Linked DNA regions of Homo sapiens: region 1 is linked to region 2. The links come from fine-mapping of genetic effects on gene expression. A gene starts in region 2. The other region holds a variant in brackets. All regions are shown on one strand. Distances are between the middles of the regions. Region 1 holds the start of LOC105376381 (a long non-coding RNA gene). Region 2 holds the start of NET1 (neuroepithelial cell transforming 1).

The links.
Region 1: its variant is fine-mapped to the expression of NET1 in whole blood (TOPMed, PIP 0.98).

Annotation. Positions count from the first base shown.
Region 1 is chr10:5,555,543-5,571,564 of GRCh38, forward strand. LOC105376381 (a long non-coding RNA gene) reads right to left here and starts at 11,339. Exons shown (of 2, transcript XR_001747274.2): 1 at 10,994-11,339; 2 at 7,619-9,763. RefSeq lists silencers at 2,209-2,531, 8,402-8,628 and an enhancer at 5,188-5,689. The variant T/C (reference allele first, on the strand shown) is at 7,977.
Region 2 is chr10:5,407,249-5,423,270 of GRCh38, forward strand. It overlaps NET1 (neuroepithelial cell transforming 1), which reads left to right and starts at 5,309. Exons shown (of 12, transcript NM_001047160.3): 1 at 5,309-5,572. The coding sequence starts at 5,445. RefSeq lists a silencer at 5,221-5,650 and an enhancer at 13,966-14,135.

The sequences.
Region 1 (16,022 bases), 150 kb after region 2:
TCTTGAACCCCAGACATCTTGTCTATCACTTGAGACAAGGGGATTGCATCAGCAGCTTCACACTCTTTTCCTTTCTTTATGTTTTAGATTTGGAGTCTCTGTCACAGGCACAGGCTGTGGTGAGCCATGATTGTGCCATTGCACGCTGAACAGGCTGGAGTACAGTGGCATGATCATGGCTCACCACAGCCTTGAACTCCTGAGCTTAAGTCATGCTCCTGCCTCTCAGCCTCCTGAGTAGCCGGGACTACAGGCCTGCACCACCACACCAGGCTAATTTTTAGATTTTTTGTAGCAACAGGGTCTCGCTATGTTGCCCATGCTGGTCTCAAACTCCTGGGCTCAAGCAATCCTCCCACCTTGGCCTCCCGAAGTGCTGGGATTACAGGTGTGAGTCACGGCACCTGGCAACACTTTTTTTTAGCCAAGAGCCCTTCCGATGGACTCTCATGAGTTAAGCCAGTCTATAAAGCACAGCCAAGCAGCCAAGCTGCAGTTGAAGAGGGGATGGGAGAAGACCTCCCACCGACCCCCAGGTCTCTGAGAAGCACAGCTGGAAGACTCTGGCCCTCTAGCCCACAGCCTCCTAAATGCCCTGGGCTCAGCCATGTTGTGACACTGGGATTTCTCAGGGACCTCAGACCTACACATCTCCCTCCCAGCCAACCCACCACCCCCATGCCATGCCCAAAACCAACACTCTCCTTGACGAGTTATGCAATCCTTCTTTCCAGATCATTCTGTGGTATGTAATCTAACAAACTAGCCATGCTTAAGGGTTCGGAGGGAGTGACGGGGTTAATGAGCTGGTTCTACCCCTCAAGGAGGATTTTGCACTTGTAATGGGGATCCCCTTACTCCAAGGGAGAACTGCTCAAATATATTTTTTGCATGTTTTTAAATTTCAAAAGTAAGGTGTGATTTTGATAAGCAACGACTATACTATAGAAATACCTTGTTTAGGAGATGAAAATGTCCCCTGCCTCCCCCTCCAAATTCAAGCCTTTTAGGTAAAGCAATACTTGAATGACAGGCACGGTGGCATTTGTGTGCAAGGAGAAGACTGGGTACCACCAAGTCCCGGGGTGGACGCCGACTCCTTCCATGGTTCTGCCTGTGCCGACGCTGCCAGGAATGCTCCCCAGGGGCTCAGGAGTGAAGCTTCGTGGACTCTATGCCTGGCTTCCTGAGCAGGTACAATTCCGAGCACCTCGGGCTGCTCCTCTCTGGCTCCTGCCACCTTCCTGAGACAAAGGGTCAACCCTCAGCTGACCTCGCAAGGGTGGGAACAAAACCATAAAAGGATAAGACATCTCCTGATTAGAAAGTGATGACTGGGCTCGTGAATGCCAGACCATGTGGGGCTGAGTGACAAGCAAGAGCTTCCTCATCACCAGGGGTCAGGGGTCTCTTGGCCATGGGCAGCAGGCACTCATTCCTTCCACACTGTTCTAGGGGAGAAGAAAATAAAAACCAACGCTCCAAGGAGCTTTTGATTTATTAATAGTTGGGCTGGCAAGAAATAAGGACTTAGAGATTCAAAACTTCGATGGCTTCGAGTCCAGGCCACGCGGCTGTGTGGTCTCTGCTGGAACATCCTTGGTGGCGGAAGCTCTGCGCCTGGTGCTGGAGGAGGCCTGAGGATCAGGAGATCTTCCTCCAGGGAGCCCACTCCTCCACCCCTGTGGCATGCAGCACTCACCCCACAGGCTTCTGCCTGGCTGCCCCCATATGGAAGCTTCCAGGGCAAGCCCAGAGGTTCCCTGCTCCCAGCCCTTGGTCCTGCCACTGCACCCAATAAAACATCCCCATCTCACATGAAAACGGCCCTCTGAGGAACCCGGCGTCTTTCCGGAGGGAGGTTCCTCTCTAACACCGGGGCTTCCCTTGGGGTCTGCTCACCCAGGCTTCTATGTCCTCGGCGTGTCCTGTTTTCTGAGCCCAGGGAATCTGGGGGCACGTCAGATCTCAGTGTTGGGGAGCTGCCGCCAAACAATACATCAAAGCCGGTTTCTTTTCAAAGTAGAGGCTGTCTTATTATAATTCAGGGACAAATTCTAACTAAGTTTCCAGAAGGAGGCCCCGGTGTGGAGGGGCCTGTCTCTCCCTGAGCGCCTGCGTCTCCTGGCTCCACCAGGCCTCTCACCAAATGGTGTTTTGCAGCCTCTTTTCCCTTGGGAGGGTCTGGGAGTGGACAGGGCATGTCTTCCCCTTTCCCCGAGGGAAGGGTAGGAAAGGAGTTGCTCTTTGCCCCCGCATTCCAACTACCAGCCAAGGGAGCAGGTCCTGAGACCCCCCGCTGGGCTGCCTGGCTGAGGGGTATCTGTCCCTGAGGCTGCCAGGAGGCTGTGCGACACGTGGCCGGGAAGCTCAGTGCTCCAGGGAAGAGGCCTGAGAGCAGCGCCCCTGGGGGTCTCTGGGCAGAACCAGGAGAACCGGCCAGCGTCACTCAACAGTGTGCCCTGTGGCATGTCGTGGGGAGCGCAAGGGTCCCCGGAGCTGAGTGGGTGCTGCAGAGGAGCTGGGCTCATCGGGAAGGAGGTGGCCGGGGAGGGGCTGGGCTCATCGGGAAGGAGGTGGCCGGGGAAGGGCTGGGCTCATCGGGAAGGAGGTGGCCAGGGTGACCACGGCAGGAAGATGCAGGAGGCACAGAGAGGCCGGAGGGGTCATCTGCCCATCAGGGAATGCTGTGGTGCTGAGGACCCCGTATGCTGCTGGGGGTGTTCCTCCAGAGAACTCACCATTATGTAAATGCAGCCCCCACCCAAGAAAGCTGGCGCCAGCTTCCCAGGGTGAAGGCAGCACCCGGAACCAGCAGCACCATGTCCCCTCACCCTGTCCTCTTTGCTCTGACCCCCAGAGGAGCCTGGGCGGAGGCAGCAGGGGTTAGTCCAGAAGCTAGAAGGGCAAGCGGTGGGGGCAAGGGCACTGCACAGGGCTGGACGCCACCCCCACGCTGCCTCCTTAGCCATTTGCCCCCACCCCTGACTGCAGCCCCAATCCTCCACCACTGGGGAAGGAGTCGGTGCCCTCGGCCACCTTCCTGGAGGCAAGCTGCTGCCCAGGAGGGAGAGGCGAGGCCACTGTCCCCAGGAAGGAGACTCGGCTGCCTTCACACCCTCAAGCTGTGCCAGGGCACAGGAAGAGCACCCACCTATCTGGCAGGTGCACCTCTAAGGTCGCCTTCCTCTGGAGGGCCCCCGACGTCCCCTCAGAGGGAACAGGCTCTCTGGAGCCCGGGTGGTACTGGGCTGCTCCTGAGTAACTGAGCAGACTCAGGAACCCCAGGTCCTGCCCTTCGTCCAGTTCCCAGTTGCCCTGGACAAAGAGTGAGTGTATCTGACACATCAAAAATCCTCCAAAATATTTACTGAATTTAGTTTAAAACAAGGAGTGCACTGTCTGAGGATAGCTCTGGTGTTCTCAGCATCAATTCTCTCCCAAGTCTTCCTTATAGGGGAGACGTGTCCTTGCAAACACAACTCAGCTTTATGAAAGTACGTGGTTTTTTTGCTTATTTTGTTTTTTGAGGCAGAGTGTCTTGCTCTGTCACCCCAGCTGGAGTGCAATGGTGCGACCTCAGCTCACTGCAGCCTTGACCTCCCCGGCTCAAGTGATCCTCCTGCCTCAGCCTCTTGAGTAGCTGGGACCACAGGCATGCACCACCACACCTACCTAATTTGTGTATTTTTTGTAGAGATGGGGTTTCACCGTGTTGCCCAGGCTGGCCTCAAACTTCTGGGCTCAAGAGATCCTCCTGTCTCGGCCTCCCAAAGTGCTGGGATTACTGGTGTGAGCCACCGCGCTCGGCCGGTACACATTTTATTAAAGGCACAAGCTTTTTTATGGGTCTCCCCCTCTACCCAGAATGCCTTGGTGTGTTGCTTCATAAGTTGAGAATAATATGCTGGCAAATATTTTAGAGTGTAGACCCTCCACGCAGGTATGCACCAATCATTGCCGTCTCTGAATGTTTTATCTCTGATTAAGCAGCGTGGATTTTTTTTACTGTTCCCCAAAATACACACTGCCTCGGGGAGCACCCACTATCGGGGTAGCTGAGGGTAACCTGGACCATACAAATATTTAATCAAACTGCACCTCCTGGGAATTCCTAGTGTGGGTGACGCACCCTCCCTCATAATGAAAATCTTTTACCCCGATCCTGCAGTCACACCTCCTCCCACAGACCTCCACATGCAGGCTTTTTCCTTACCACACACATGCTGTCTGGAGAGGAAGCCAAGAGCCCTTCCAGAGAGGAGACTGTGAAGAAACCGAATGTCTAAATAAAGTCAAATCTTCTCTGTGCACCTTGCAATCATCATTCAAAGAACATTGCACACATACCCTCCTGCTCTATATTAAGTACACCTTCCCTGCTGGCTCAAAACAACCCCGAGGCTTGGGGGTAGGCACGGCCATAAATAAAGCGTGCTTTAAGCTGGCTCTAATTTAACTAGAGTCTTTGGCGAGGGGAAATGCAAAGAATATTTAAACAATGACACACAACCAAAACTAACAGGCAGGCCTCAAAGGGGTTCGTCATTTTTTTTCCATCTAAAATTAAATTTCGTGGGTTTTTTTTTTTGCAGAACTTTGACTCAATTGCTTCAGGTTCTTGTCTGAAACATATTTGAGTCCCTCTCTCTTGTCTCTGTCTCTCTGACTCTCTCTCTGATCTCTCTGAATCTCTGTCTCTGATCTCACTAACTCTTTCTGTCTCTGTCTCTGTCTCTCTGTCTCTCTGATCTCTCTTTCTGACTCTCTGTGTGTATGTGTCTCTCTCTCTTTCCCAGACCTCCGCCCCCCACAGTTTTATCTCCAGACAGTGTGTGTGAGACAGGAAAGGGTCAGCGTGGGGGGATGGGGAGTGCCTGAAAGATCTAGGAGTGATGGGTTGACATTGTTCAGAGATTAGAGATTATTGGAAATAAGTTGGAAATGCTCTTCTGAGAGCTTTGGACTTCTTGAAAGAAATATATTCTATTTTGTTTAAAACAGCCTTGCGATCAACCAGTCAATCCATAGCTGCTTGTTGAGAACAGCGGGAAAACGGAAACATGATATTGGCGCTCAGAGAGCTTGGCTGGAGCTCCAGAGACCAGGGAAAATCTTCAGTGGCCAAAAGCACAACACGACACCTTACGGTGAGGCACGGACCGGACCAGACAACATCCATCTTCCTTTCCTCAAATCTGAGACAGTCCCAGAAGGGTGGGACCCAGAGAGGGGCAGATACAGGCCACACTCTACAGCCAGCAGTCAACACACCCATCCCCCAGAGGATGGTCCTGGGCCCAGACCTGGCAGAGAATGCAGGGAGACCCTCCGGGAGGGGCTCGCCCAGGGCCAGGGACCCAGTCGTCTGGAGACAGTCAGATGAAGCCTGCACGGGTTGACTTCTCTCTGTCATTCAGCTGTGCGTTTGGGGGCACCTGCTGGTATATGGCAGTGTGCACCATGGAGGGTGTGAAAATGAACTCAGAGTTTGCGCCTCAGGTTCCCAGAGGACTTTGCTCATGTCCCATACGGCCACTCACCCTGCATCCTATGTGTTTACAGAATTCTCCAACCCAGCATTCAGATCCAACTACATCTCCTGAGCCCCCAGCCCAGGCCCTGGCCCATGCCAGGCATGCAGGGGCTGGATGAATAAGACAGAGTCCAAGCCTGCAGGACTAAAGGCCCTGCCCAAGGGTAACACAGGCCCTCGAAGCCATGGCGTCCAGCAATAGGACAGTGTCACCCACTAGTTGGGGAGCCACAGGACCTCTGGAGGGGTGAGGGTGCCCGGAGGGTGCATGAGATGCTTCGGAGGGAAAGTGACTTCCCAGGAAGCCCTTGGACAAGGCTGGGAGCCTCCACTGCAGAGAGGGGAGGAAGAGGGTCCCAGGTGAGGAGAAATGAATGTAAAGGGCTCCGGAGCAATGGGGACAGGCGGCCACGCAGCGCTGGAGCAAGACGTGCACGGAGGAGCCAGGAGGTGACGGGAAGGGCCCTGGAGCAGGTGCCAAGGAGGCCGGACGCCCTGTGGGCCGTGTCCCTCCTGCCCTGTGCTGCGGTCCTCACACCACCAGTGACCACAGCAGGAGTAACGACGCCCAGCTTCACTGTGGGCCGGGCGCGGGACAGGCGTTGCTTTGAGCCTTTTTCTGGAATTGATCCTTTAATCCTCACAAACGCTCTGTGGGGAGATCCCTCTATTTTACAGATGAGGAAACCCAGTCTCAGAAAGGCTGAGCTGGCATCCCAAAGTTGAGGAGCCCAAGATGGCAGAGTGACTCCAAGCCCTGCCCCTCTCCTTGCGTCCCCCCACCCCCGTCCTCCTCTCCTGGTGTTACCCTCCAGGTCCCCTTCGCCTGGCATTCCCCCTACAGGTCTCCACCTCCTGGTGTCCCACTCAGGTGCACTCTCCTGGTATCCTCCCAGGTACCCCTCTCCTGGTAAAACCCAGGTCCCCCTCTCCTGGTGTCCCCCGCCATCCTCCTCTCCTGGTATACCCCCAGATCCCCCTCTCCTGGTATCTCCCCCCAGATCCCCCTCTCCTGGTGTCCCCCTCCAGACCCTCCTCTCCTGGTGCCCCTCCCGTCCACAGGCACTGCAGGCAACCCCTCCACTCCCGACCATGGCTCCAGCCCTCCCACTGGCTATACCTCCACACTGGGCCCATTGCACAGCTAGCTCTCGGGTTGGACAGACATCTGATGGCCACATCCCTGTGGAGGGAAGTGTCTCTAAAGGACACACGGTCCCTGAGGGATGTCTTGTGGTGTTCTGTTGTCAGACCACCAGGTCCCACCAGCAGCCATGCCTGTATCTCTTTATCCTCTTGGTCCTGACCCCTTTGTTCTGGTCTGAACATGGCCACTGCTCCTGGAGCCCCAGTGAGGGGAACCAGAGACCACGGCCACTGTCTCCCAGGGTTCCCAAAACCCAAACAATGGGGGCCGCCTTGGTGTGCGTGAGCCCTCCCTCCTCCTCCCTCAGAGTCTCACAAGTCCTCCACAAAGCAGCTGCTTCTGCCTCACAGAACCATTTATGGGGCCAGTTACTGGACTGCTACCTATGACCTTCCATCTCCACCCCAGAACCGAAGCACAAAACTCCCACCTCATTGCTCCCTGACCCAGACGAAAATTCCTCCCCTCTCAGCCAGAGAGGAGTGAGTGAGGGTATCTGAGGCTCTGTCTCGGTTTAGCCTCAAACAAAGGAACTGTCTCTGTGCAATTATTCAATATGAATTGTCAATGTCTATTTCCCCCGTTGTCTTCTTTTCAAACTTTACTAGGCATAGTCATAGAAACTTAAATTTCCTCCCTACCTAGCAATTCTAATAAAAAGCTTTGGTCAGTTATACACTGAAATTTTTAAGGCTGGAATGGTGGGTCATCTAGATTTGCCAAGAAACAGCATGGGGGATTATGGGGAATATTGATAAAATAAGGTTAATTAGGAATTGAAAGCTGTTGATGATAGTGTACACAGAAGCTTATCGCCATATTCTGTTTGCCATTATGAATGCGCAAAATCTTCCAGCAAAATGTGGATGAGAAATAAATAAATAAAGTAAGAATGCTGTTGGGGCGAGAGGCTCCAATGCATGGCAGCACCACCGTTTGGGGGTTCTCTCTTTATTTCATTTCTCCACGTGATCTCTGGCACCCTAGTAACCAAGATTTGGCTGGCTGTGTGTTCCTAATCCAACAAAACCAGCCAGAGCTGGAATTGAAGTCTTCGAGGTGGAGTGAACCCCAGTGAGCCCACCCCAGGGCTGCCCCCCCAGGTCCGCCTCACAGACCCACTTCTGCAGCCCCCCGTCAGGTCCCCCTCACAGACCCACTTCTGCAGCCCCCTGTCCAAGTCGCTGCCCCAGGTCTGGACACGGGCTGGAGGGTCATCGTGGTAGTTGCCTCTGAGTCAGCAAAACGCTGCTGTCACCTGTGAGGTCTGCAGTGCGTCTCAGAGGAGTGAGG[T/C]CCTGGAGGGGTCCTGCCAAGCCGAGATGCCGGAAATGGGGAGCTGCCGGGGAGGGGAGATGGGAGGTTGGAAAACGGTGTCATGGGAGTTCTCTCCTGGGCCTTTAAAGTGCCCATTCTCAGACAGAGGAGTCCAGAGGGACGTCTGGAAGCTTGGTTTGGAAGAAATTCCAGACTTCCCTGGGCAGCCAAGGCATTCTCTAGCTTTCTACGATCCAGGCCTGGCCCCTGCCTCATAAATCTCGCAGGAAGCGCTCTCAGGAAGGACGCTACTGGCCTGGGGCAGCCTCGGAGTTGAATGAAGATGGTTTGACTCTGAGAATGACTGGCCCCAGCCAGATTCCCCGTGGGGCAGCCCGTCTGTTTGGAAGTCTCCTTCCCCGCCGGGCCTGCACACCCACCCCTCCTGCCACATCAGCCCCAATATCTCTGCATTGAGCCCAGTGGGCACCTTCCCTTCCGTTGCTCAGAGAGCTTCAGAGACAGACCCTTACTCCTGCATTGATGTCCATCCAAGGGACGGGGCTCAGGCTGTCCCTTCCAGCTCACGAAATAGGTGCAGAGCCAGGCAGAGCAGCCCAAGTGTGACTCACACCCCGCCAGGTCCCGTGGGCACTTTCTCAGCAGGGTTGTGGGGGCAGCAACTCCATCCACTTTCCTCTGTCCCCTCACCCGCCCACCACTGCCCACGGCCAGAGTCACTGGAGCAGCCTCCATTCCGTCCCTGCACGGCAGTCACCATGATCTCTCCAAACCACAAGTCAGGGTGTTGCCTCTGCTTACAAGCCTTTGGTGACTGCCTGCCGTCTCAGACATGCTCAGCAGCAGTCACACTCACCGCCCCGTCATGCCTGTCTCTCACCGTCCTCCCGGCTCGCTCTCCTCTCACCAGGCTTAACGGCCACACTTCCTGGGGCACTTCTGTGACCCCAGGGCCCGGCTGGTGCCCTTCCACGGTGGTGCTTCACCACCTTGCAATTGCTGGTTTACATCCCTGATCACCCAGACTAAACGTGAAGGGCCAGGACTGTGCTGAAAGTCCTGAAACCCAGAGATGAGAGCTCAGCTCAGACCGCACGTGATGCCTCGGTGTGGACATGTGCCCAGCTGAGCGTGCAAGCCCCTAATGGCCGCTCAGCAATGCTTGTGTTTTCTCCCTTGAAACTCTGGAGCAACTGCAGCCAAACATCCTCTGCTCACTCTGTTTGTATCTCTGTCCTCTAAATCAGCCCTCTGACTTCCTCCCCGCCTGCGATGAGACTGTGAAGGAATAACAACATCCGGAGGAGATTGTGCCCCAACTTGGCTGTCGAAGGGGCCTCATCAGCCACCTTCATGGCCCAGACGGTCAAAGGCTGACCCCACAGAGTAAGGCTGGCCCTAGGAAGAGTGGGTGCTGGGCAAGGTCCACCGTGTGCCGCAAGATCCCCCATTTAATGCAAACAACATCTCAATGAAAGATAGCATCAAAGACGGCAGTCTGAAGCCCAGGGAAGGGCGTGGACTTTGAAGTTGGGCAGGTTTGAGTTTAAGTGTTGTTTTGCCACTTCTGCTGTCTGTACCATCTTGGCAATCTGTAAAATGCATATAACACCTCGTGTGTTAGGGTGGGTCCTTGCTGCAATAACAAACAACCCCAGATCTCAGTAACTGCGTGCAATGAAACACCTGCTTCTCCCTCACACGAAGCCGAATGTGATGGTTTCTAGTTACATGGTTCTCTTGGGTGGGCTTCTCCCAGGCCGCAGCTCCACTGAGCTCCATAGTCCCCCGCTGGATCTCCTGCCCTAAAGTGGTCAACAGATGAAGAGAGACGGTGTGAGTATTGGGCAGGAGGTTTCTGGGGCAGCCTGGAGGTGGTGTCCTCCAGCATCACTCCCAGGGGCCCCGGCTGCAAGCAGGACATGCTGAAGCTGCAGTGTTCTGGGAAAGACATAGCCCCGCTTCTGCCACACCTGCCTGGCAGAATTGTCATGTTTTAGGGGACGGCTCGTAAAATGGCTTAACAGGCTCTTGGCCCAGGGACTGCTAGAATAGTGAGTTTCCTTCTTCTCTTCGCCTTTGGTGATGTTGGGGCTGGAAGATTTCTAGAATGAGCTGTGTCTGTAAAGAAGCCTCAAGTCTTTTTTTTTAAGCACCCGCGGATGAGGCTTTTTGAGGCACTAGCCGGGCATCAGAGGCCCAGGGAAGTTCAAGGGTTCACCCTGATTGGCCTGAACATCTGGGAAGTTCTGGGCTGAGCACGATGACAAATGTGCCTCCCACCCCCACCATCCACACTCATCTACCCACACACACGGGTTCTGTCCTGCCCCGAAGGAAGATGGTTTCAGGATGACTGGATTTCTGAATTTCCTCCGTGCAGATTAAGGAGGCTTAAGAAGCCCGCCTGTTGGGAGGAAGCCTCCGACCGGAGCTGCTCTGGCTGGGAAGGGGTGGCTCAGGGTGGTGCCTGCTGTTCAGCCAGGCTCCCCGAGGCAGGTGGGATGAGACACCTGGGTGGGGCGGGCAGAAGCTCAGAGTCTGCACGGTGCCAGGGAGGATGATGAGGGCGAGGATGGATGAGCCCACAGGGGTGCATACTCCACCTCCCGAAAACACAAGGAGCTCAGCGGCTGCACACACAGGCAGCACAGAAAAGAACAATGGGGCAACTCGAGGGCGTTCTGAGGGTACCTCTTGCCTACATCACCTGGTTTTAGTCATCTCCCACGTGCCTGCCTTCAGGCTGATGGACTTCTGTGAGATCCCTGGGTTGCTGGCTTTGAAAGCCACTGGGTACCGACCACCCACATCTTGGCAGGGGAGCTCCCATTGCTAACATTGCTTCATAAAGTGCCACTGGAGAACAGCTGTTGAGTGGTGACCAGCCCCCAAGGAGTCAACCGCCTTTCCCACCCCCAACTCACCAGAGTCCCATGAGGACACCCCACACTCAAACCCAATCTGGACAAAACTGTCAAGGACCCTAACCCAGGCGTGCCCCCCACCTTCTCATCCAGCTCCCTTTGACTCACTTGGGTGGTCGCAGCCGCCGGCTGTGATTTCTGGCCCATGCCTAGTTATTTTAAAGGCCAAATTTTCACAGCCATGCAACAGGCCCTTATCTCCAGGCCTTCAGATGCTCCCATGTGGCTTGTTTGATTCTCCTTCATATCAGCCCTCTCTCAAGACTCAAATTTCATTTCAAACCAAATTTCTCTTTTCTCCATTCTGTTGACTGGGCATCACCATGGCAACCCCCACCCCCATTGCAAACATCCTCTGAGGAACGGGCCCACATGCAGGGGCTTGAACCTGTCATCGCTGTGAGTCAAGGTGAGATGAGCTCACTTCCCTTGATCAGCCATGAGTACTGAGTGCAGCTTCAATTTGTGTCTTTGTCACTAGGACAACTCTGTGACTAGTGTGCTTCGGTTAGGGCAAAAAGTCCTTCTCCAGGAGAAAGAAGTAAGTAAGTTACCTGCCTTTACAGACAGTTGGTCCAATGGATAAAACAGGGGCTGCCAGAGAACCCTACAGAACAAAAAACCTATCATGCAAGATTATTACATATCTATCTTTTTTTCTCAGAAAAAGGCTGGGTGCTGTGGCTCACACCATAATCCCAGCACTTTGGGAGGCCGAGATGGGTGGATCACCTGAGGTCAGGAGTTCGAGACCAGCCTGGCCAACGTGGTGAAACCCTGTCTCCACTAAAAATGCAAAAATTAGCTGGGTATGATGGCATGTGCCTGTAATCCCAGCTACTCAGGAGGCTGAAGCAGAATTGTTTGAACCAGGGAGACGGAGGTTGCAGTGGGCCTAGAATGCGCCACTCTACTCCAGCCTGGGTGACACAGCCAGACCCGTCTCAAACAAACAAACAAACAAACGAACAAAAACCTACTAAATACCACCTATAACAAAAATGAATTTGAAGATTTCTCACAAACTCATGGTCACAAGCTTCTTTGGTAGTTGATTTTGTTGAAACAAAAGCTGACCATAAATCCACAGAAGACAATTATGAAGGAAAGCCACCCCACAAGCTTTGCTACATCCAGTGAAAAACACGTGCTGCACACATGAGTCTCCAGGATATGAACAAAATGTTTACGAGCCAAAAATTATGAAGAAGGTATTGATCTCAATACATTTTATTAGCATCCAAATAGCCATCCACAAATATTTGCTCAGTGATAAGGAGGAATGCTACCTTGTTCAACATCTATATTCTAGAAGTTAATCATTTTCAAAGAATCAGCTCATTAACTAATAAATAACAATGTTGTCTTCCACCATAGTTTAAGGCAATACCCCTTCTTTTCCTATCCATCTGCATGGTTTGTTTTGTTTTATGATGTGAATGTTATATATTTTATCAATATATGGACTTCTTAATGAGCCTGAAGACAAAAACCACATCCTTGCTGTGGCTATAGGAGGCGATATCTCTCCGAAGGTCACATGGGATCATTTCTGATGAATACACCAGGTATAAGGAGGTGTGTCTCTCAGACCTACAACAATCTAAGGAGGAATGCCCTAAACCTTGGTTCAAGGGATGATTTCATGCTTGTATACATACACAAAAGTCCATCAAACTGTATAGATTTGTGCACTTTATTATATCTTGGCCTTATTTTTAAAAACAGAATAAAATTATCAGTGAACCTCAGAGAGGGTCTCAGTTTCTCTTGCTTTTGACCACAAAAGTGTCAAATTCCTCCCAAATTATGGAGAGAAGCTAGAAGGGAGAACAACTAGGGGCTCAGGCAACACGGTTGTGAACTGTAGTTAACGTTTAAGGGCCGGGAGATCTGTATCTAAGCAAATCATCAGTAAATGCCAGCTTATCTCAGACTTTGTAAACTAATTTGTTTTATGCTTCCTGAATTCTCATTTATTCTCCTTCATTCTCAGTATTAGACAAAGTACAGTCAATGCTTGTCATTCTCAGTACTTCTGTTCTCTAAAGTCACCAAGAACAGTGAATTAGCAAATACAGTCAGCTCTCCGAATCCATGGATTCCAAAACCTCAGATTCAACCAACCCTGGATTGATAATGTAATTAGGCCTATGATGGTTACATCTGTACTAAACATGTCTATTTTACTTCTTGCCATTATTCCCTAAACAATATAGTATAACAACTATTTACATGGTATTTACATTGTATTAGGTGTTATAAGTAATCTAGAAATGATTTAAAGTATACAGGAGGGTGTGCATAGATTATATGCAAACACTATGCCATTTTATATCAGGGCCTTGCATATCTTTGGATTCTCGTATCCGCAGATGGTCCTGGAACAAATCCCCCAAGGATACCAAGAGACAATTATGCTGAACCATTGTTCCCAGGAGAAATATGGGGTATGTTCCTACCAGCCCTGACCATAGCATTTTTGTCAACCAATCCATATATAACTTTGTTTTATGTATGTTTCTGTTTAAAGGCACCTTATTTAATATAAAGTGTTGATTCATTGGTGGGTAAGTAGTTGGTTGGTTAGCGGGTGGTTTGTTGGCTGACTGGTTGGTGGGTAAGTGGTTTTTGGTTGGTTGGTTAGTTGGTGGTTGGTTGGTGCTTGACTGGTTGGTTGGTGATTGGCTAATTGGTTGGTTGGTGGTTGATTAGTTGGTTGGTTGGTAGGTGGGTGAGTGGTTGGTTGGTTGGTTGGTAGGTGGGTGAGTGGTTGGTTGGTTTGTTGGTAGGTAGGTGAGTGCTTGGTTGGCTGGTTGGTGGTTGATTGCTTGGATGGTTAGTGGTTTATAGGCAGTTGGTGATTTGTTGGTTGGCTGGTGGGTGGGTGAGTGAATGAGTGTGTGGTTGGTGTGTGGTTGGTTCGTTGATTGGTTGTTGGCTGGTTGAATGAATTAATAAATTTTGCTCTCAAAAGCTCATAGTCCCCCCCAAATCCCTTCTCCATCTGTCATAAAGTCTGATATTTCTAAAGTTAAGATCCTCGATTAAAAAGCATCATGGAAATGTAAATATTTAAACTGGATCACAGAACTATCTTTCCTGGGAGGTGAGAACTCACTAATGAGTTAATGAATGGCACAGGATTCATTTCTCCAGTCATTTTTCCCTTATGATTCCATGACACCCGTGGAAAGAATGGGCACAAGGTAGGTATGTGTCTATGGAAAAGAGGGAAGAAGTAAGAAAACATCTGGAGTAAGACTTTCCTCTCTAGTCCTAGAAAAAACCATTGTGATGCCAGGAAAAAAAATTATCTTCTCTCAAAAGAGTGTGTTTACCTTTAGACAACAGCTATCTGTTGTAAAGGCTCATCAGTCCCTCAGTGTGTCACTGTGATCACAAATCTCCAGGAAAGGAAGATTTTGCAGGCAAAGTTTCTGGGAAACATTTCACAAGAGAACGGCAGCCCAGCAAAATGTGCATTTGGGGAGCCTGGCTTGGGACATGCATCTTACAGCCTGGTTTGCTGCCAGGATCCCCCAGGACACTCTCAAAAAAACAGATCTCTAGGCTCCCCCGAAACCTTTGGAAATATTCTTGAGGGACCAAACAAGAAGCAGATACTTCCGAGAAGCCCACCAGGTGAATCTGACGATGAGCCCAGGTGTGGAATCTCAGGCAAGGCCTGGTGGAAAATCCGTGGTCTGCGAGGAGAGCTGCCTGGGAACCCGGCACGACGGGGAGACACTTGAAGGAGGGGCACATGCGCCAGAGGTGAAGCTTTGCCCTCTCCAGCACAGAGTGGGCCGTGAGCTGTCCGCCACAAAGGCGGAGAGATGAGGTAAGAGGGAGGCTGCATTGTTTTGATGTCCAGGCACAGACTTGGCATCCACCAGCCCAGGCAGCGCCACAGCCAGGCTGGCTCTGGAGGAAAGGGTGGGCCATGGCTTTGAAGCCAGGCAGGCACACTTCCTCCAGGGCCCGGGTCTGCATGCAGGGGCACGAGACTCAGAAGCCAGCTCGCCCATCTGTTTCCGTTACATGCAGATGGGGCAGAGGGCGGAGGGCGCAGGGCTGGATGGGGACCAGACTGTGAAGCCTTCGGGGACTGCGTCCAGCTGCATCACAGGTCTCATCTGGCCCAAGGAGGCCGGTGGGGCGGTGTCAGGGAAGCCCAGTGTCCAGGGCTTTGAGTGCTAATTCTTCTTCCTGGACATCGGTCCCCCTCCTCACTAGCTGGAGGCAGGGTCCCTGCCTTGCTTTTGCAGGCACCCAGTGCCTGTCGTCAAGCCTGGCCTACAATAAGTATGTGGTAAACATTCATTAAGTTGAACTGAATGCTCCTTTCAGTGAGAAGATGAGCTCTTCCATCTCTCTCATTAGACAGAGGTCCCCATCAAGGGGTTCACATCAACTGGTTGTTAACAAAAAGAGGGACCCTGGCCCAGCCAGCACCTGCACACAGGAAGCATTCAGTGATGCTGGCTTTGTTGATTTGCAATGACCATCTGCAAAACTCTCTTCCCTTTATCCGGGTGTGGGTTTGGTTCCTGTGTATCCAGATGAACGTAATTGCCATCATCGATACCAGATACCCAACCATGACCCCTTCTTTTCCCCTTTTTTCAACTTCTACTCTAAGTGTAAACAAGTTAAATGATTTGGGGTTGTTTTGCCCTCATCTGATTCAAAAAGAGGTGATGAAGCATCTCGGTTCTACCAGCTGTGTGATCACAGAAAAATTGCTCAACCTCTCTGAGTGCCAGTTTTCTCAACTGCTAAATGGATTTACAAAACCCACCTCGCAGAGTAATTAGAAGGATTCGTGTACCTAATGCACTGGAACAGAGGCGGTGGTTGATATCTAGAAACTAGTATTATAATATTCTCCATCCTGGGACAGTCTAGCCCTAGGGACTGGATCCCAAGATCATGGTGTCCCAGAGAACTTTGACCTTCACAGCTGCAAACAGATGGAGGGACAGGGCTCAGAGGTTCAGCAGGTCCCTTCTGTTCATAGAACCCATTGCTTTGTAAACAAAGTCCTATCTATTCATAGCGACAGAGTTTGAACCTCCTTGCATTTTTGTTCATGCATTTACACAAATGTGTGTTTTATGCCTTGTTTACAAGT
Region 2 (16,022 bases):
AAGAGTAAAATGGAGATTTCTCTGAGGAAGAAATTTCTCCTAAGGATGGCACCTTTAGTTTCAGCTTTAGCTGTTACTCAGGAGTTTCCAGCCTGCCAGTCTGCCAGCCTGCCCTACTGATTCCAGACTTTACAGCCCCACAATCACACTAACTTATTCCTTAAAATAAATCACACACACAATACTGACTCTGACATACTTGGTGGCCACCCTTAGGTTCTGAGGGTGAAAAAATGGCAGAGTGATAAAAGTGTGGTATTTATAGTTACGATGTCCTTGTTCAAAGTTCCTTTCTTGGCCAGGCACAGTGGCTCATGCCTGTAATCGCAGCACTTTGGGAGGCCAAGGTGGGCAGATCACCTGAGGTCAGGAGTTCAAGACCAGCCTGGCCAATGTGGTGAAACCCCATCTCTACTAAAAATACAAAAAATTAGCCGGGTGTGGTGGCAGGCACCTGTAATACCAGCTACTCTGGAGGCTGAAGCAGGAGAATCACTTGAACCCTGGAGGCGGAGGTTACAGTGAACCAAGGTCACGCCATTGCACTCCAGCCTGGGCAACAAGAGCAAAACTCCATCTCAAAAAAAAAAAAAAGTTCCTTTCTTAAGTATTTTTCATTGTGAGCCAGTCAATTCACTGGCCAAGTAATGAGACAAACAAAACCTTCTAAGCATGAAAATTTGTTACAAAAAAAAAAAATTATTCAACTCTGAGCAATAATTCTGATTGACATTCTGACATTTCTGAAGTTCTCTTTGGTAATTCTCTGTTGGCAGCCTCACAACCACAGCCAGATCACTGTCCTTTGCCATTCTCTCTGGCCCCTACCATTGCACTGAAACCCCTTTCTCCTTCCTCCTCTGTTCTCCTCTCCTACTACTAATATAAATCAGTCTTTTAGACCTGCAATGTCTTTAGGAAGATAGTCTAAGCGTTAAGAAAAATGAATTACAGTCTACTTTGGATTAATAGCACCTTCTCTGGCCACACATATTTCATCTCAAATTTTATTGTTCTCTAAGCTCAACAGCTAGATTTTGGAGTTTTCCATTTTCCTCATTGGAATACCTAAGAGTAAACCAATATGGTAAACAAATGATTCATAGATGATTGATTGATTGATTGACTGATTGAGGCAAAAAATGAAACAACCTCCCCCCACATCACACATACACACACAGTGATAGATTTTAAGGGATGACAAACCTGATTTCAAATATTCTGCCCTATTGTGCCTATAAGTACACTTCTGCTTGTCAGAATGACAATCAATGCAGTCCACATACTTAGCTGTTGGACTACACTCCCTTTCATTTGGCAGGAACAATTAAGTTTGACCCAATTAAAAATTACAGTCTAATAAACAGTTTTGTAAATTAATCAATAGTAGATATAGTAAATATATTTTTAAAAATTTCAGACTTTATTATAACATTCTATATATAAATTATATGTATATGCACACATACAGACATTCATTCTCCTGAATGTAATTGCTGTTAGTTCATGAGAAGCTATGAGAAGATTCAGACAAAAAAGAAAAACGTTGATGCAAAGGGCAATTCTCTAGTTATTAAGACTACTAGTTTTCTAATGGTAGGTCATTGTTTGCAAATTTGCTACATTTTTCTATGGGAGCCTACAGACCAAAGGGGAATCATTTAGCTAGTGATAGCAATGGCAAACAAAATATCACATCAAAATCATCAAATAATTTGGAAATTAATAAAGTGTTTTGATGAACACTTTGTACTCTAATATATACATATATATATATATATATATATAAAACTTGGTAAGCAGTTTTGCAAAAATAGTTTGATTTACTTAGATAATGAAAGAAAATAGGTTTTTAAATTATTGATTTACATAATAATTTACATTCATTTATTGATTGTTGAATTTATTTAATATCAACTTGCAAAATGATTGGTGTCATCACATAGGGCTGAAGGTTTTGGAAATAATCTTTGAGGAAGTTCCCCAAAAGAATATTTGTTTTGCAAATCCATGGTTGAAAAAGTTTGGGTTACACTTTGCTCTAGTCAAGTTAGTAGGAATATCTTCTCAGAGAGGGAGTTCTAGAGTCTGATTTTATATATATGAAAGCTGAAATCAAAACAATTTCCTCAAACCCTATCCCGGTGAATATTTTAAGGGAGAAGGATGATTTGTGGGGAACTGAAAGAGAGAGGATTCAGAGAACATTTGTCATGGTTTTGGGACTGTTCTATACAGTGTAAGACATAGAACATGGGGACAATGGCATTCAGACACCAGAAAGTTGATCTCTTGTAAGATCAAGAGATGTCACCAGCCTTTCCCAGGTCTTCAATGACCAACCCTCAGAGCGGTCACTTTTCTTTGCTCTTCTTCTATGGTACCCAGCCATTTTCTGATGAAAATTTGTCTTCTATTCCTTATTTCCCTAATGTCTAGCACAGATCCTGGCATATTATAGCAGGAATTTAATAAATTCTTGTGAATAATTGAACAAAATCATAAGTTCTCAAGTGAATGAAAATTGGAAACAGTTGCTCTGCATAAAACAATAGTATTCAGGTCACTGGAAAGAAGTGCCCACCCCCACCACTGGAATCCCCACATTGACATCCTGCAGTATCTATCATTTTGTGAGTAGTTATTACAAGTTACCAAAGGACTGACCACCTCTGATGACACAATCAAAACCAGTTTCAGGACCTGCAAAGCTGAGGACAGACCCTGAATTCTGAGGATCTCACCGAAGTATGTTGAAACTATTAATATGAAACGGCTGTTTCTGTGGGTAAAAAGACCAAGCGTCAGCGATTCACATGGTCCTATCTTGTGAACAAAAGTTCTCTGAAAAGGAAGTTTGGAGAAAGGAGACTTTATTCTAGTGAACAGTTTGCAAACCAGGGAGACACAGCCTTCGGAGTAAAAGAAAGGTGATTCCAGAGAATAAAGGGGAGGGTTTGGCTTCTATAGAAAAAGTTCTTGTCCAGGTTTCCAATCAGATGTGTTTATGCAAAGGAAAGATTCAGACTTGCTCAGTTCAGATTGGGTAATACAGCTGAACCCTGATTGGATAAAGCAGATGAGTTCTGATCGGTTACATCAGGTGAGCCCTGATTGGTCAATTCGGGTAAATTGTGAAAATCCCAAAGGGGTGTGAGTTTTCTGGACACAGAGTAGTTGTGACCTACTTGGGACCTGACTTGAAGAATTGCTCTTACAGGTTTATTTTTGTTCATAATCTAAACATCTGCATCCTCTGAAGCTCTGTCTTGGTGGAGACCAACTCCCCAAATATTAAGAACATTTCTGTATTCTTACACTCTAACTGCTACAAAGCAGTACTTTCTTCTTTAATTTTTGGGGAGGGATGGGGAAGGTAGAACAGAAGTGGTTCTTGACCAAGGTCAACTTATGTTCAGAGCTGGTTCCTTCCGGTGGGTTCATGGTCTCGCTGACTTCAAGAATGAAGCCATGGACCTTCATGGTGAGTGTTACAGCTCTTAAAGGTGGCACAGACCTAAAGAGTGAGCAGCAGCAAGATTTATTGTAAAGAGTGAAAGAACTAAAGCTTCCACAGTGTGGAAGGGGACCCCAGTGGGTTGCCCTGCTGGCTGGGGTGGCCAGGTTTTATTCCCTTATATGTGCCCTCCCATGTTCCATTTTTGTCCTATCAGAGTGCCCTTTTTTCAATCCTCCCTGTGATTGGCTACTTTTAGGGTCCTGCTGATTGGTGCTTTTTACAGAGCACTGATTGGTGCATTTTACAATCCTCTTGCTAGCTACAGAGCACTGATTGGTGTGTTTTACAATCCTCTTGCCAGACAGAAAAGTTCTCCAAGTCCCCACTCTACCCAGGAAGTCTAGCTGGCTTCACATCTCAATGTTACTCCCTAATTTCTTACTCTTTTTAAAACAAAAACATTTTTCCCTCATGTTATAAAGGTACTGCAAATTCAATATGTCCTTATTTTTAAAAAAATTAAATGCAAAAAATAAAAATAAAAATTTTGAATACCTAAAGTCTACCTAGAGACATTTTAATACATTGACTTTTTAATACATTTAATACATTTTAATACATTATCTTTTTTCTTTGTATAATCTCTTGTAATTCATAACTTTGAATATACTGAATATACCTCTATACTTCATGTTTTTATTTCAAATTACCAGTATACTATTACATACTTCACACTTCATTTTTGTTGGCTGAAAATATTCTTCTCAGTGGATGAGCTATAAATCATTGTTTATTTAGGTTGTTTTAAATGTTTCTATTATAAACAATGTCATTAATAGCTTCATGTTTATATAATTTTATTTTTTAGGATAAATTTCCATAAGTGGAAATATACTGGCAAAAGAGAAGTGTTTTTTTGTTTTTTTTTTTTTGGAGACGGAGTCTCGCTCTGTCACTGGGCTGGAGTGCAGTGGCACGGTCTTGGCTCAATTCAAGCTCCGACTCTCTGGTTCAACTAATTCTCCTGCCTCAGCCTCCTGAGTAGCTGGGATTACAGGCATGCGCCACTCTGCCCAGCTAAGTTTTGTATTTTAGTAGCGACAGGGTTTCACCATGTTGGCCAGGATGGTCTTGATCTCCTGATCTCGTGATCCGCCTGCCTCAGCCTCCCAAAGTGCTGGGATTACAGGCGTGAGCCACAGCGCCCGGTCAGGAGAAGCTATTTTTAAAGACTTTGACACATATAAAGCAATATTTAAAATCAAAGAAAGTGTAATTTGTTTAACAATTTTTTTTTTACTTGAAGCGGTCTTTTATTTTATATTATGTCTTTTGCTGACTTTTACAAGCAAAGGATGAAGTCACTTCATTCTGTTTTGCTAGGGAGAGACTGTGTCATGCTTATTGGAAGACATAAGGGCTCATAATTAGATTTTGCTGGTTCCCTAGAGACAGTCCCGGGAACACACTTGCATAACCTTTGGTAATTGGAAATATATCTCATATTGGCCACGTGCACAATAATTCAGTGTGAATATGGCCAATAAACATGCCTTGTTTACAGGTCATTAGTTTGGACCTCTCTTCTCCTCAAATGCTAAGAAAGATCTGGTGAATTAAAATGCTTCCAGTCCATTTGCCTTGGCCTGTAGTGAAAGTCCTAATGAACAATGAAGGAGGTACCGGGCCTTAGGGACTCAGGGATGCGCTCAGGAGTTAAGGGCAAATTTTCCTAGGTTCTTTCCTAGGCAAGTAGATCCCGGGAGCGGTGGAGGGGCGGGACTCCACGTCTCCTAGGAACCGCTGCGCGCTCACTGATTGGCTGATCGCTGCTCAGCCGCCATTTTCAAATCCCCGGATGACGGCGGTGGCGGCTGCAGTCCGCTGACAGGCGCTTTCTGCCTGGCAGAGGCTGGCGGGCATCGTGCCCGTCCCTGCCGGTCTCCCGGGCACCCGGCCACCGCCCCACCCCCTCCTCCGTGCCATGGAGCCCGAGCTGGCGGCTCAGAAGCAGCCTCGACCGCGGAGGCGAAGCCGCCGGGCCTCTGGGCTCAGCACGGAGGGAGCGACGGGGCCTTCGGCCGACACCTCCGGGTCGGAGCTGGACGGGAGGTGAGTGTGGGGGAGGGGAGGGCCGAACGGGAGGTGAGTGTAGGGGAGCGGAGGGCCGAACGGGAGGTGAGTGTTGGAGAGGCAAGGGCCGGGGGGAGGGGAGGGCTGGCCGGGAGTTGGATGTGGGGGGCGGCGAGTGGGGGTGTTGGTGAGGGCCAGGGGGAGGCGAGGGCCGCTGGGAGGTGAGTGGGGGGTGGGGGAGGTGACCGCGGGGTTGGGGGGGGGGACGGGGGCCGCTGGAAGTGAGGGTGGCACAGGCTGGAGTGACAGTGTGCCTGGCCTTGGACCGAGGTCGGTCCTGAGACCCCAAACTGCGATTTTCCCTGCCTGTGGCAAAGGGGCGGGTTTATTGAGTCTCCTCGCCTCCTGACTGTTTCTCAGGGGAGACTTAGGAAAAACCACAATGGTTTTGTTCTGCACACCCAACTGGCTGTAGGCTGGCGTTCCCAAATGCCTTTGCTCAGACCGAAACTGTCATGGTGAGCACCACGAGAATGGGCTTCCATGTCCTGAGAAAGAAAAGACTAAGGGATAAGTTGACTTCGGGATATGTTATGAGATGCCTATTAGAGAGTTCATCACAACCATTTTCGTGTTTTTTCTTTTTACTTTTTGTGGAAGTATACATTGAAATGAGAGTGTATGACTCGTGTTTGGCTCAGTGAAATTTCACAAAGCGAAGCTCAGGGGATAGCTAGTGAATTAGGAGGAAGGGAACCAAGTGAGAACAGTATCCAGGAGGCCAAATGAAGAAAGAATTTCAAGAAGAGGACGTGGCGAGCTATGTCAGATGTTATTGATAGGTCAAATAAAATGAGGATTAAGTAAAATAAGATGAGGATTAAGCTAGATGAGGAATGAAAATTAAATTTGGTAATGAGAAGAGAGTATTGATCTTAGATGGTTTCCAAGAATGGTTACAATATCGAACTTAGAGTGTTTTGCAACAGGTTGAGAAGAGAATGTGCGATTTGTTCAGAAAATAATGTGAGTGCCAACACTAGGAATATGGAAATGGAAAAATACTCTTGTTACTATTTAAGATTTATAATCTAGTGGGGAAGAAAGATAAGTAGGTTAATAATTATTATAATATGTGATAAAAGTTATTATAGTGATATACACAGAATGCCGTAGATTAAAAGGAACACTTAATCCTGACTGGAGAGAATAGGAAATGATTTCCTATTGTAATCCCTGAGTCTTTAAGGACCAGTTTAGAGAGCAGATGTAAATGGATGATTTCAGGCAGAGAAGCATGTAGAAAGGCCCTGAAGCAAATGAGTCTGATGAGTTCTGGGTATATATTCTATTTTATTACTATATTAACAGTGATATTTGTATAGAGGAGAGGAAACCAATATGGGGAGAAGGAGGAGGTAGTCATGAGAGATGATGCTAAAGAGGTAAGCGCCACATCATGAAGAGACCTTGTATGCCTTGACAGAGTTTGGGTTTTATCTTCATGGTAATGGGGAAATACTGAAAGACTTTAAATGAGCCAATGGCATGACATATTTGCATTTTAAAAGATCAGTTTGCCTTCCATGAGAAAAATAAGCAACATTTTGGAGTCATCTCACTCTTCATATTTTATGAAAACTATTCCCCAAAAATGTGCACATATACATAAACATTTCAGGAGATTTGTGGACCCAGCTGTGTATACCAAATTAAAATTTCCAAGTTTAGCTGATGGATTGGTAGGAAATCAGTCTGCAGTAGTCTAAATGAAAAAATGATTGTTCGAATCTGATAGCTGGCAATGGGATTGGTGAAGAGAAGTTTCACTGCAACAGGAAGACAAGAAAGAATAGAGAGAAATAACACAATTTTGTGGGATAGACTCTTAAGAAAGAATAAATTCCCTTGATGTGCTGTGCTGAGTTAACAAATAGAGGGAGAGGTTGAACAGACAGTAGAGGAGAAAAATGGTTGAACAAGGATCCAAGAAGGCAGAAAAGGACAGAATCCAAATTCAAGGTAGAGGATTTAGCCTAACAAGAAGCTATGGATGATATATAGTTTTGAAGAATGGGGTGTGTTGTGAGCAGGAATTTGAGGACTTTCCCACCAGGCCTCTATTTTTTGTGTGAGGTAGGAAATGATACATTGTGAGAAAAGCGTAGTAACACAGGCAGCATGAGGAGAGTGAGACACAGTTAGAAGAACCATGGAGAGAAAATGGAGAATTAAATAACATATTCCTTTTCCAGAAAAGATGTAAGATCATCTACAAGAATACGTAAAATATTACAAGATAGTATTAATTGTGAGGCAAGAAGCAACTAAGCACTGTATCAGATTCAGAAATCATAAGGAAAAAGATTTGTGTGTATGATTATGTGACTATTGAAAAACGTTCTGCAGGCAAAACTCAGTATAAACTAATTTGAAAGACAAATACGTACAGTACAATTTACCCACTTAAATTGTACTACTTAGAACATTTTCATCACCTCAAAAAGAGCATTTGTACCCTTTAGCTATTGTTCCTCTCCTACCCCTTCTGCCCTAAAACCTAATCTGTCGGTCTGTAGGAATTTCTCTGTTCTGGACATTGCATATGAATGGATTTATGTAATGTGTGTGGCCATTTTTGGTGGGCCATCCTTTGCTCTTTTTTTTTTTTCTTTTGAGACGGAGTCTCAGTCTGTCACCGGGGCTGGAGTACAGTGGCATGATCTCGGCTCACTGCAACCTCCGCCTCCCGGGTTCAAGTGATTCTCCTGCCTCAGCCTACCAAGTAGCTGGAACTACAGGCATGTGTCACCACGTGTGGCTAATTTTTTGTATTTTTAGTAAAGACAGGGTTTCACCATGTTGGCTAGGCTGGTCTTGAACTCCTGACCTTGTGATTTGCCTGCCTCGGCCTCCCAAAGTGCTGGGATTACAGGCGTGAGCCACCGCACCTGGCCCTGTTCATTTTTAAATTTCTTTTTTATTGAGTTGTTAAGAGTTCTTTATTCTGGATACAAGTCCCTTATCAGATAGATTATTTGCAAATATTTTCTCTTATTCTGTGGTTTGTCTTTTCACTTTCATGATGTGCTTCGAAGCACAAAAATGTTTTAGTTTGTAGTCCTACTTGTCTATTTTTGCTTTTGTTGCCTGTGTTTTGGTGTCACATCCAAGAAATCACTGCTAAATCCATTGTTATGAATCCTTTCCCCAGTGCTTTCTTCTGAGAATTTTATCATTTTAGCTTTTATATTTGGGTCTTTAATCCATTTTGAGTTAGTTTTTGTATATAATGTGAGATGACGGTCCAACTTAATTCTTTTTCATGTGTCTATCCAGGTACCCCAGCACCATTTTTTGAAGACTGTTCTTTCTCCCACTGAGTAGTCTTAGCACCCTTGTCAAAAATCAGTTGACCTTAAGCATGAGAGTTTATTTTTAGACTTTGACTTTTATTCTCTTGATCTATATGTAATAGCCCTATGCCATTACCATGGTGTTTTGATTACCGTTGCTTTGTATAGTAAGTTTTGAAATTGGGATATGTGAGTCCTCCTACTTTGTTCTTTTTTTCCCAAGATTGTTGTGGCTATCCTGGGTCTCCTGCAATTCTATGTGAATTTTAGAATCAGCTTAATCGATTTTTACAAAGGAGTCCACAGGGATTCTGATAGAGATTGCATTAAATCTTGTAGATCATTTTCAGGAGTATTGCCCTCTACAGAGAGTTAAGTAGTCTGATCCATGGACAAGGGATGTTTTTCCAATTATTTAGATCTTTAATTATTTTCAACAGTGTTTTGTAGTTTTCAGAGTATAGTTCTGCATGTTTTGCTAAATTTATTCCTAAGTATTTTGTTCTTTTTGATGCAGTTGTAAATGGATTCATTTCTTTTGAAATGGGAAAAGTTCCCTTTTCCCCCTCGCAGGGCGTGCACTGGAGGTGTGCTCGCTTCTTCGGTGCCCTGCTGTTCAAACCTCTAGGGGAACATATAGATAGGCAGGCTGTGGGGCTCCAACCCCATAGCCATGTCTATGGGTGAATGTTTACAGCTGAAGCCTCAGTGGGCTTGTGTTACAGGGTACTCTTAGTTTAGCCATCCGTAGGCGGCTTGTATTCATCAGCTCAGTTAGACCCCTGCCTTATTTCAAGGACAGGGGGCCTTCTGTATCCCAGGGTTCTTGCCTTGATGTACTGGAACAATCAGATGACACGTTGGCTTGGATAATGATTGCAAGCTTTTATAGAGTGGAAGTAGCTCTCAGCAGATGGGGGAGCCAGAAGGGAAATGGTTTTGCCCTGGTGTCAGGTTGCCCGATTCTCCTCCAACCTCCCTGGCCAAGCTCTGCGTCATTCTGCGAATCGATGGCCTGCCAGCTGGCCTGCCAGCGTGCTGGTGTACTCCCACGTCGATGTGTTCCTCTTGACATCCAGCCACCTGTGTGTCTGCCTGCTAGGGTCTCGGGGGGTTTTTATAGGCACAGGTGGGGGCGTGCTTTTATAGGCACAGGATGGGGGTGTGGTGAGCCAGGGTGGTCTTGGGAAATGCAACATTTGGGTAGGAAAACAGAAATGCCTATCCTCACTTAGGTCCGTGGGCCCAGGCCTGGGGATGGAGCCCTAGCAAGGGACCACGCTCTCCTCTACGCAGCACTTCCCTGCCCCGCTTTGTATCACTTTATTTTCAGTTTAATAATTTCAATTGTATAGGAATACATACAATTGATTTTTGTATATCGATCTTGGATCCTGCTACCTTGCTGAGCTCATTAGTTCTAATAGTTTTTTAGTGGTTTCTTTAGGACTTTCTGTGTACAGGGTCATGTCATCAGCAAATAAAAATAGTTTTACTTCTTTTTCCAATCTCTGGATGCCCTTTACTTTTTTCTCTTTCCTAATTGCCCTGGGTAGGGCCTCCTGTACAACGCTGAACAGAAGTGGAGAGACGGGAAATTCTTGTCTTGTTTCTGATCTTAAGGGGAAAGCATACAATCTTTCACCATTAAGTATGATGTTAGTTGTAAGCTTTGTAGATGTCCTTTATCAGGTTGAGGAAGTTCCATTCTGTTACTAGTTTTTGAGTGGTTTTTATCATGAAAGGTTTTAGGGTTTTTTTTCTTTTGTCTATTGAAATGATCATGTGGTTGTTGTTATTACTGATGTGTTACATTAATTGATTTTTTGGGATGTTAAACCAACTTTGCCTTCCTGGTATAAGTCCTGCTTGGTCATTGTGTATAGCTTTTTTAAATATATTGTTGGATCCATTTTGTTAATATTTTGTTGAATATTTTTGTATATATATTCATAAGATATTGATCTGTAGTTTTATTATCTTGTACTATGCTTGTCTGGTTTTGGTATTGGGATAATACTGGCCTCATAAAATCAGTTAAGAAGTATTCCCTACTGTTTTGTTTTTTTTGAAAGAGTTTGTGAAGAATTGGTATTCTTTCAATGTTTGGTAGAATTCAGTGTAAAGCCACCTAGGCCTAGACTTTTCTCTGTGGATAGTTTATTATTATTATTAATTCAATCTCATCTCTTGTTGTAGGTGTCTTCTGATAGTTTGTTTCTTATTAAGTCAGTTTCAGTAGGTTGTATCTCTTTAGGAATTTGTTTCATCAAAGTTATCTAATTTGTTGGTGTACCCTTCCTTGTTCATAGTATTTCTTTATAATCCTTTTCATGTAATGTCAATAGTAATGTCCCCTCTTTTATTTCTGATTCTTGTAATTTGTGTCTTCTTTCTTTTTATGATGATGGTCAATCTAGCTACAGTCTTGTCAATCTTGATCTTTCCAAAGAATGTGATTTTAGCTTCATTAATTTTCTTTGTTCTTCTATTCTTTGTTTTATTTTCACTTTAATCCTTATTGTTTCCTTCTTCCTGCTTAGTAATCTGAGTAATCTGCTCAGATTAGTCTGCATGCTTTAGGTTTAGTTGGCCCTTTTTGTTTCCAGTGTCATGATTATAGATTAAGTTACTGATTTGAGATCTTTTTCTTAATATAGGGATACAGCTATAAATTTCCCTCTGAGCATTGCTTTAGCTGCATCTCATAAATTTTGATATATTGTGTCTTCACTATCATTAATCTCAAATTCTGATTTCTTTTTGACTTCTTTGAGCCATTAGTTATTTAGGAATGAATTGTTTAATTTCCACATAATTGTGACTTTCACAAATTTTTTCTAATTTCATTACATTGCAGCTGGAAAATACACTTTGTATTATGTATTATTTCTATCCTTTTACATTTATTGAGATTGTGCTGTTTTTATATGCACATATGTTTGTAATTGTATCTTCCTGATGGATCAATCTGTTTATCACTATAAAATATCCCTCTTTGGTAACATTTTTTTCTTTGAAAGGCCATTTTGTTTGATGTTAATATAGCTACTCTAGCTTTCTTGTGGCTTGCTGTTTGCATGATACGTGTTTATCCCTTTATTTTCAAGCTGTTTATATCTGTGAAACTAAAGTGTGTCTCCTGTGGACAGCATATAGTTGGATCTTGGTTGGTTGGTTGGTTGGTTGGTTGGTTGGTTGGTTGGTTTTGATCCTGTCTGGCTGTCCATTTCTTTTGATTGGGTTGTTTACTCCAATCACATTTAACGTTATTTATTGATATAGTTGGATTTATGTCTGCCATTTTGTCGTGTTATATATGTCTTTTGTTTCTCTATTCCTCCTTTATTGCTTTCTTTTGCATTAAGTGAGAATTTTCTAATTTATAGCATTTGAATTTCTTTACTGATTTTTTTCATTGACACTGCTTTTACTAGGCTTTTTTGGGTTTTGTATGTGAACTCAGATTACCGTCTGTGGTCACTGGCTTTCAGCCAGAAATTCTTATGGTATTTCTTGTAAGGCAAGTCCGCTACCAACAAATTCTCTGTTTGTTTTTTTTCTTTGTTTTGTTGTTGTTGTTGTTGTTGTTGTTGTTTTTATGGGAATGTCTTTGTTTCTCCTTCATTCTCGAAAGATAATTTTGATAGTATAGGATTCTTTGCTGAAATTTTCTTTTTCTTTGAGCACTTTGAATGTGTTATCACACTGCTTCTGTCTTCCATTGTTTCTGTTAAGAAGTCAGAATCTTTTTGGGGTTCCTTGTAAATAACAAGTGTTTTTTTCTCTTGCTGCTTTTAAGATTTTCTTATCTTTAACTTTTGCCATTTTTACTATGATGTGTCTGTCTGTGGATATCTTTGTGTTATCTTACTTGAAGTTTATTGAGCTTTTTCTGAATGTGTAGGTGGTTGTTTTTCAATAAATTTGGAGAAGCTTCAGCCATTGTTTCTCTGAAGTTTTTTTCTGCTCTTTTCTCTTTTCCTCTCTTTCTGATATTCCCATTATGTGTATTTGAAGGGAAATATAGCAAATAAAACAAAATTTTAATGCAAATATTTAAACCAAGCAGTTCTACCCACAGAAATTTATCTTAAAGTAATGGGCAAGTATACATGGATGTATGTACAAGAAAGTATATCCTAGCACATTTGTGTAGTAGAAAGGTTAGAAAAAACAGGAGGAGGAAGCTAAATACATTATGATATTCTGTACAGTGAGATATTATAATATACAATTTTTATAACTCAGGTGGAATATATTTGGTATGTTGTATAAGATGTATTTGGGATTTTAGGTTGTTTGTTGATACATCTCCTCTATACACCTGTGCAAGTTTCTCTGGGGCAGCAGTTATGTTTTCTATGTAGATATTCCCTACAATATGACAGGCCTCTTAACGTCTTTCTCCTCACCTCCCAGTTCTGGGTAGTAGGCAAAGGTCTTTCTTTTTTATTTTATTTTTTTATTTATTTTTGAGATGGAGTCTTGCTCTGTCGCCAGGCTGGAGTGCAGTGGCGCGATCTCGGCTCACTGTAGCCTCCGACTCCCTGGTTCAAGTGATCCTCCTTCCTCAGCCTCCCGAGTAACTGGGATTACAGGCAAGCGCCACCACGCCCAGCTAATTTTTGTATTTTTAGTAGAGACGGGGTTTCACCATGTTGGCCAGGATGGTTTTGATCTCCTGACCTCGTGAACCGCCCACCTTGACCTCCCAAAGTGCTGGGATTACAAGTATGAGTCACTGTGCCCGGCCAGCAAGGGTCTTTCTAAAGAACCCTAGGTTATACTACATGATTGAGAGCTCAGAACGAGGACTGCTTTTCTGGCCTAGTTTTTTTGATACCAAGTCTGTTCTGGCCTCAGCTTTGATTTACCTAATTATTTTCTGTCTTCTCCTTTGAGAATGTATATTCTTTTAACATTCTTTTAGACTAGAACCCATAGACAAAGAGTAACGTTTAAAGATTTTAGGCATTAAAAGCAGTCAGACTTCCTAGGTTCAAATTCTGGCTCTTAAGGACCTTGGGCAAGTTACTTAGTCTCTAAATCTCACTTCATAGTACCTATGTCTAAGGTCCTGAAAATTGGACACAAGTAATGTTTAAATAATTTTATTTCTGTCTTTCGGGGCCTTAGGGAAAGCCATAGAACTTTACATATCACCCATATGGCAGAAATATAAATACATACTGATCCTTTTAAGGATTTTATATTTTCCTTTTTTGCAGATTTGAAATAATGCTGTCCATTGGTAGAAAAATAATAGTATGACCTATGATCTACCAACAGTGATAAGGCTTACTCTTTGAATTTTGTTTTTCCAGTAAAATTAATTGATGGATTTGTACAGTGGATATCCAGTTAAAGGTATAGCCTTAAATCAATTCTTGACAACCCAGGATCTTTATTATTAGTAGTAGTAGTTGCCAAAAATAAAAGGCATGCTCACAGAAGCTTGTAAGGCCATGTGGTCCCAAATAAGTTGACTATGTTTTTAAATAGTTTATTGAGATATGATTTGTATATCATAACATTCACCCTTTGTAGGTGAACAATTCAGTAATTATCAGTAAATTTATAGAGTTGTGCAGTCATTACCACAATCCATTGTTAGAACATTTCATCACCCCAAATATCCCTGCTCCCACCCCAGCCCTAGGCAGCCACTGATCTGCTTTCTAGCTCTATAAATTTCTATTTTCAGGACATACAAGTGGAATCATACAATGTGTAGTCTTTCTGCTTCTGCCTTCTTTCACTTACATCAGTATTTCATTTTATTGCCAAACCATATTCCATTATATGAATATACTACATTTTGTCAACTCCATTTACCAGCTGTTGTACATTTGATTTGTTTCCAGTTTGGTGCTTTTATGGATAATGCTGCTATGAACATTTGCATGTAAGTCTTAGTGTAGGCTGGGCGCGGTGGCTCACGCCTATAATCCCAGCACTTTGGGAGGCCGAGGCGGGTGGATCACCTGAGGTCAGGAGTTCGAGACCAGCCTGGTCAACATGGCCTGTCTCTACTAAAAATATAAAATTTAGCTGGGCATGGTGGCGTGCCCCTGTAATCCTAGCTACTCGGGAGATTGAGGCAGGAGAATCGCTTGAACCCTGGAGGCGGAGGTTGTAGTGAGCCGAGATCGTACCACTGCACTCCAGCCTGGGTGACAGAGCAAAACTCCGTCTCAAAAAAAAAAAAAGTCTTTGTGTAGACATACGTTTTCACTCCTCTTGGGTAAATTCTTGGGGGTGGAATTATCAGGTCCTACGGTAAACTTACCACTAACATCTTAAGGAATTGCCACACTGTTTCCAAAGAGTACTGGATTGTTAATGATGGAAGCCTTCAGAATTTCTCTTTCCTTCTGTTACTTGCTGTTGTCATTATCCCCTGTTCCCTCTTCCCTGAATTTGCTGCTGTGGGCAAGGCCTGAGAATTAATGCAGGACATTAGGATGTCTGGGGTGCTTTGGGGGTGGTGTTTGCTGGTTTCTAGATGCTCAACTGTGTTCTAGACAAGATATTCCAAGATGTATGTATTAGTTGAGACTCTCATGCAGATGAGAAAACCCTAGTATGATAGGAGACATAGTCTACATGATTGTCAGAAGTGGAAGAAGAGACAACTCCTTAATAGCAAAGATGCTGAACAGCCAAAACAGTAGTGGATGTCTACTACATCAGATATTTGACCCAAATAAATGAATTGTTTCTATAATAATTTAGTTTGTTTTTGCCTGATTTGCAAAGAAATTGAGAACCTCAGTTGCTTGGCACACCCCAAATGTAAAAAGTGTTAACTGCAGAGGATAAATTATACCATTCTTTTTACATGTATGGTATAATTCTTTTTATATGTTTGGCATTTACAGATTACATTTTTTATTTAATTGGAAAAAATGTTATTTTTAGGATAAGAGTATATGTACAGTGCTTGTCACATAGTAGGCACCCAATAAATGATAACATTATCCTTTTTAAAATCTTTTTCTGAAACTCGTTTTCATTCTACATCCATTTTTTATGGTGAATGCATCTTGAGGGTAAATTATGCTTTTAAGAATGCTTTTTTCCTGTTGGTAATAGTAATTTTCAATACGTTTTTTGAAAATATTTATAAT